Linked DNA regions of Homo sapiens: region 1 is linked to region 2. The links come from fine-mapping of genetic effects on gene expression. A gene starts in region 2. The other region holds a variant in brackets. All regions are shown on one strand. Distances are from middle to middle. Region 1 overlaps CNTN1 (contactin 1). Region 2 holds the start of LRRK2-DT (LRRK2 divergent transcript).

Region 1 (2,925 bases), 730 kb before region 2:
ATTGGAATCCAGCTGTTAGCAAAAACAGCAATTATTCAAATCAGTACATTTTTCACCAATTATGTGGCATTTAAGATCCAAGAGGTAGTTTTTTCCCCTAACAAAATGAACACCACTTAAAGAATGTGTTTTAGACATGCTAACTCTATGTCCTTGCTCTAGGCTTCAGTTTCTCAACTGAAAAATAAAGTGAATAATTTATTGATAAGGTATTTTTTAGCTTTCATATCTTTAACATTCTATTATTTCCACAATCAGAGGGTTATATCGAGAGAAACTCAAGGGATGAAACTATTTCATTGATATCTCTTAAAGAGAAATATTAAGGTCTAATAAGTATCAATAAGTTTTAAGTATCAATGAGTACAAACAAATACTATATGGTTTGGAAGAATGATTGATTTGGTTTCACAAAGCTGATCTAATTGACTAGTTTTAATATGTGCCACAGTTCATTTTACAAAGATACTAAAAGTTTGCAGAAATTGAGAAAATGTACAATTCCACTAACATGTACTCTGTTGCCAAATTATAAGTTCTGCGAGGACAAGAGTATTTGTTTTGTTCAATGCTCTATTCTATTGCCTCCAAGAGTGTTCAACACATATTTTTGAGTCTTGAGGAAATTTTGCTTGTGATGATGAGACACCATTTCAATGTAATTTCCAAAAATAGCTAATAGTTATTCAATGCCTACTCTATACCGGGTCCTGGTCTGTGCAAGTATATACATACATACATACATACACACACACACACACACACACACACACATATATACACACACACATATACACATACATACACACATACAGGCACACACACACATACACACACTTTTATTCAATTCTTTTTTGACAACTGCCCTATGAGATAGGTCTTATTATATCCATTTGATTAACAGTAAAAGTTAGACTTAAGGAATCCAAGTAATTTAACTAAGATAACTAAGGTCACTCAGCTTGTATGGTAGCAGGAGCATGTCAAAGTTCATGTTAATTATCTCCAAGATATTTTCTTAGAATGAAAACTTGGAAAACTCAATTTTTAAATGGACATTTGGTTTTCCTATGAACCAAAAATATTGATTTACTATTTCAGTGATAAATATCTAGATACCTATGATGTATCATGACTGTACATGGAGTGAACGTTTTGCTTCACCATAGGTTCTACCAATAACCTCTTCATATATCATGTTCCCTCCAGTTCTTGGAAAACATTTGGGTTTGCAACCCTTGCTGGATTAATGAGGTTAAGAATAATAGCTGAGAGAGCATATTGGTATAGTTAGTTGGAACAGAATATTAATATCTCCATATAAAGAACTGATCAGTGGCCACACACCTTAATCCTTGATATTAGCCAGTCTTAATTTAATGTCGATTGAGATCTTCCAGTCCCTTGAGGTATAGATTGGTCAAAAATTGAAACAGTTCCCAAGATTTCTACAAATTCCTGCAATAGGGGAGTTTTTTTCCTTCTGTCCTCTTGGTCTGTTATTTATTTATTTATTTATTTATTTATTTATTTTTGTCATACCAGGGAGCTCCAGACTAGAAATTCAGCACTTTCTCTATTTTATCAGAAAACCAAATAGCATGAAGTCTTACCTAGTAAAGTTAGTTTACTGAACAACTGAAGGAGCTGGAACTGGTTATATCAAAAAAAAAAAAAAGGTAGGGTAAATCAACCTTGAAAAGTATCATCCACTGCATAATTCTGTTTTTAAAAGTCCTGTTGGCCGTAAATTTACTGGGAATTTCCCAGTAACCTTCACCTCTCCCAGTGCTCTGCCATCTTGTTGG[C/A]AGCCACTCCTACTACCAATCTCTTACTTCTCTCTTCTTTTCTCTTCTTTCTCTTGGAAATAAATAATTCTTATTTTCTCATATTAAGCTGTTTGATTGTTTGATTTTTACTTGGATTCTGACAATATCTATTCTGTTTTTAGTTTTTCCATTTCTTCATTTCTTACTCTTCAATCAATTCTCATCTGAGTCCCACTGCTTCAGCTCATCTTATTTGACTTCTTGATAGCATTTGGCTTTCCTTCCTCAAATACTCATTTTTTTCTAGTCATCTGACTTTCCAGGAACTTCTAGGACATTCTTAACCCCTCCCTTTCTTCAACTTTCTCATAAACTCATCATAAATTCTTGAATTTATCCATTCTTTCCATCACTACTGCCTCTTGTCCAAACTACCCACATCTCTCACCTGAACCCCTACATCTTATTTGATCACTACTTCCACCACTGTTCCACTCTATTCTTTCCTCTATTGGTTACCTAGAATAACCTTTTAAAAATGCAGCTGGGCCCAACTCACTTGTCTCCATAAAAGCAGATAAACTGAAACCTTTAAAATTTCCCTTTCCTGGGACAAAAGCCATAGCATTATTGTAGCCAACTTGATTCCATTCTCTAGGCTCTCTCTGATGCTCCAGCTCACCTAGTGTGCCATCTCACTCACACTCTGCTCTCCAGGCAGAACATTCTCTTTTTAGGACCACAAATGTATCTTGTTCTCTTCAGTCTCTGGTTCATCACATTGTCTTGTCTTCTGGAATTGTGATTCATACCCCTCATAACCTCAATACCCCCTCCCCTATCACCTTCACCTCTACCCAATACCAGTTGAAATCATTTTCTCCAGCAAGTCTTTCCATTTTCTGTGGACTAGGCAGGTACCCTTTCTATATTTTATTATGCTACCATGAAACTTCTGTCATATTACATATCGTAAATGCAGTTAAACACTTTTGTGATTATGTGGTTGAAGTTGTTCTCCCTGGCCGACTATAAGTTTGATGTGAGGAAATACGTCTGTTTTATTTAGCAGACATGTTGTATCCCTGTGTTATATATGTATACAGCTGTATGCGCTGTCTTCTCAAGTCCAGCACAGTGCCAAGCAAATAATCAC
Region 2 (2,925 bases):
CCGCCCCGCGTTGCCCTCCCTCTCCGGAGCCCTCCTGCTCGGCTTCCTCCTCCCCCACTCAGGCCCCAAAAACGAGCTCAGGGGCCTGCCAGAGGCTCCGCCGAGGCGACGGGCCGCGCAGAACTCTGGCGGCGGCCGTGGGGCTGCTGGAGCCGGGCCTGGCTGGGATGACCGTGACCGTGGCCCCCACGCACGCCTAGACCGGACCCCGGGCGGACGCCGCCTCCTGGGACCAGATTCCACCGCAGCGGCGGCGCGGCCGGGAGTCGCGCGGGAAGAAACTGACTCAGCGGACTCCGCTGAGTCCACAGGCCCGGAGCCCCGCAGCGGAGGCGCGCAGTGCGCAGCCCGGCCGGCCACCCTCCGCGACCCGCCAGCCGGGGATCCTGCGGCCCCACGGAAGGTCTGGGAACTGGGAGCAGGAAAAATGAAAGCCGCCTATCTCCAGATCTAAGAATAGAAATCAGGGCGCTGGGAAAAGAGGACACCGCCCAGATGGCCCCTTTTAGGAATACATTGTCTTTAGAGTTCCACCTATAGGGAGATGAGCAATTTTCCCCCAAAGGATGGAAAGAGGGGTTAGCCATCAAAACTGCCCCCGCTACTCTTTTTTATGATTTTTTGTGACTGTTAGTGGGAGAGGAAATAAACATTGTTTCCCTGTGAGTTATCTGAAGCTCTGGTCACCAAAAGGCCACTAAATTAACTTTTGGAAATTTGAGTTGCACTAGGCAGGATCCTGATACTTGGGACACCCGAAAAGTAATCAGCTCTCAGAGCTATTAGAGCTGAGACAAAGGACAGGGTACATGAAATGAAAGGTGAAAAGTTGAGAGAAGCAAACCTAAATACTCTTCTCTTGGTATTCAGAAATACTTATGAGTATGGGTGTCTATAACCCCAAAGTTTTTTGGTTTTGTCTTTTGATTGTTTGTTTGTTTGTTCTGTTAAGTACCTAAGTAATGTGTTTTTAGGAAAAGAAACCTAGCAAGAACATTGTAGACAAGGCTAGGCAAAGATGATCTATCCTTCAGGTGATGTGTCTGTCCTCAAGATCACTTACAAAGAAGAGGATTGGACTGGAAGTTACTACTTCACAATTTTAGTTTTGTTTTCACATCTGTTACTTCAATCCTGATGACAATTCTGAAATGGATACAACTACTACTATGTATCCTTCTTTCACTAGTGAGGAAATTGAGATTTGGAATTGAGAAGTGAAGAGCTTTGCTGGAGTCACACAGGTGGGAAGTTGAGAGCCAGGACTTCAACCCAGCAAATCTCCTAACTCCAGGTAGAAGGTTCTTCATGCTCTACCACTTTAATAAGAATGCTCTAGACTTTGTTAATACATTAGATTAGTAAGATAGCAAACTCCTACTCAACCTGGATATTGGGTCTATGTCTTGTTGTTATAGAGTCTTTAACTTTTACAGAGACATGCTAAAATATTTATAGTTGAAATGGTTAGGATTTCTTTCAAAGTCATCCAGTGGTGGAGGAAAAGATGAAATGTGTGGAGATAGAGATAACGATAACAACTTTTGAATTGATAATTGTTGAAGATAATATGAGATGGGTTCATGTGGTCTGTTCTACTATTGTATCTATATAAAATTTTCCATAATTTAACAAAAAACTCCCAATCTTACAATATTTATCAGACCTACAGTGTATTATTTTCTAAGTTGTTTCTAAACTTGTTTCCATTTCTGATGACTTAATCAATGTCTCAAACATTTCTAGGCATTCTCCATCTCATGCATTCCTTCTGTTCCTCTGCATTAGTTTCTCCCTTCCTGTTCTACTGAATTACAACCTTGCAAGAAATTAAAACCTACCTCCCTTCCAAAGAAAAATAAATCTAAATTAAAAGATGTCTCCTAATTTCCACAATTCATTCATCCATCTATTGCCTATTTATTATCTACTCTATATTGGCCAGACTGTGAGTAGACAGTGTGAAAATATGAATTATTTGTTGGGAGCATTCTCCCATGAACTACTGCAGTGTTAAGGTAAAGTATTCTCTTAGTTTTCAAAAATGTTTAATTGATTGACTGAAATTCCAAGATTTATCAACTCTTCAAGTAGTTAACAAGACTGAAAATGAAGATTAAGGCATGAATTTATGATGGAAGCAGGGTTCAGTGGAGAATAAAATGGTGCTAGAACATTTGGCTAATTTCCTGAAAAGAAAAAAAATAAAACTGACATTACTAATTACAGCAAACATCAAATAGATTAAAAAGTTAAATAAAAATAACTTCAAAAATAAAATATAAATTAATAGTTATATAATCTTGAAAAAGGAAACATAAAAACAAAAAAGAAATCACATAAGGGTAGTATATGTGACTCCATCAAATTTAAATTTTCTGCAGTCAAAGAAAAAATACCCAATAATGAAACTAGAAGTCAAACGGCAAACAGGAAGAAAAAATTTGAAATACATATGATGAAATACAATTTGCCTTCAACTTTCAAAAGTTCTTACAAATCACTGGGAGGAGGGTATTACGCCACAGATAGACCAGGAAAAAAAATAATAAACTAAGGTTTTGAAAAGGAAATTCATTTTGAATGACCAATAAGTATTTTTTAATGTCATCATTATAAAAAAAATGTGTTCCTAAACATGAGTGATGCACAAGCATAAAGTGCAATTGTGTGTGTGTGTGTGTATGATGACAATGAAAGGGAAACCTTGAAAATAAATTAACAAATATTTACAAAACCTTTATGAATAAATTATTGAACTCTGTTAAAAGGCATTAAAAAGGCATGAATAAATATTAATATCACATTAATTAATGGGAAAACTAAATTCAAAAATATGTCAATTCTCTACAAAGTAATAAAAAACAATGCAAGATTAGTGAAATTCTCAACAAGATTTACATAGATTTCAGCAAGATCAAAAGG

Evidence for each region.
Region 1: its variant is fine-mapped to the expression of LRRK2-DT in spleen (GTEx, PIP 0.97).

The regions. Positions count from the first base shown.
Region 1 is chr12:40,956,201-40,959,125 of GRCh38, reverse strand. CNTN1 (contactin 1) reads right to left here. Exons shown (of 24, transcript NM_001843.4): 15 at 1-12. Among named protein-coding and RNA genes, the nearest start is that of PDZRN4, 230 kb to the left of the region's middle. The variant C/A (reference allele first, on the strand shown) is at 1,809.
Region 2 is chr12:40,222,028-40,224,952 of GRCh38, reverse strand. LRRK2-DT (LRRK2 divergent transcript) reads left to right here and starts at 1,131. Exons shown (of 9, transcript NR_186757.1): 1 at 1,131-1,294. LINC01779 (long intergenic non-protein coding RNA 1779) reads left to right here and starts at 50. Exons shown (of 1, transcript NR_186584.1): 1 at 50-1,877. RefSeq lists a silencer at 1-190.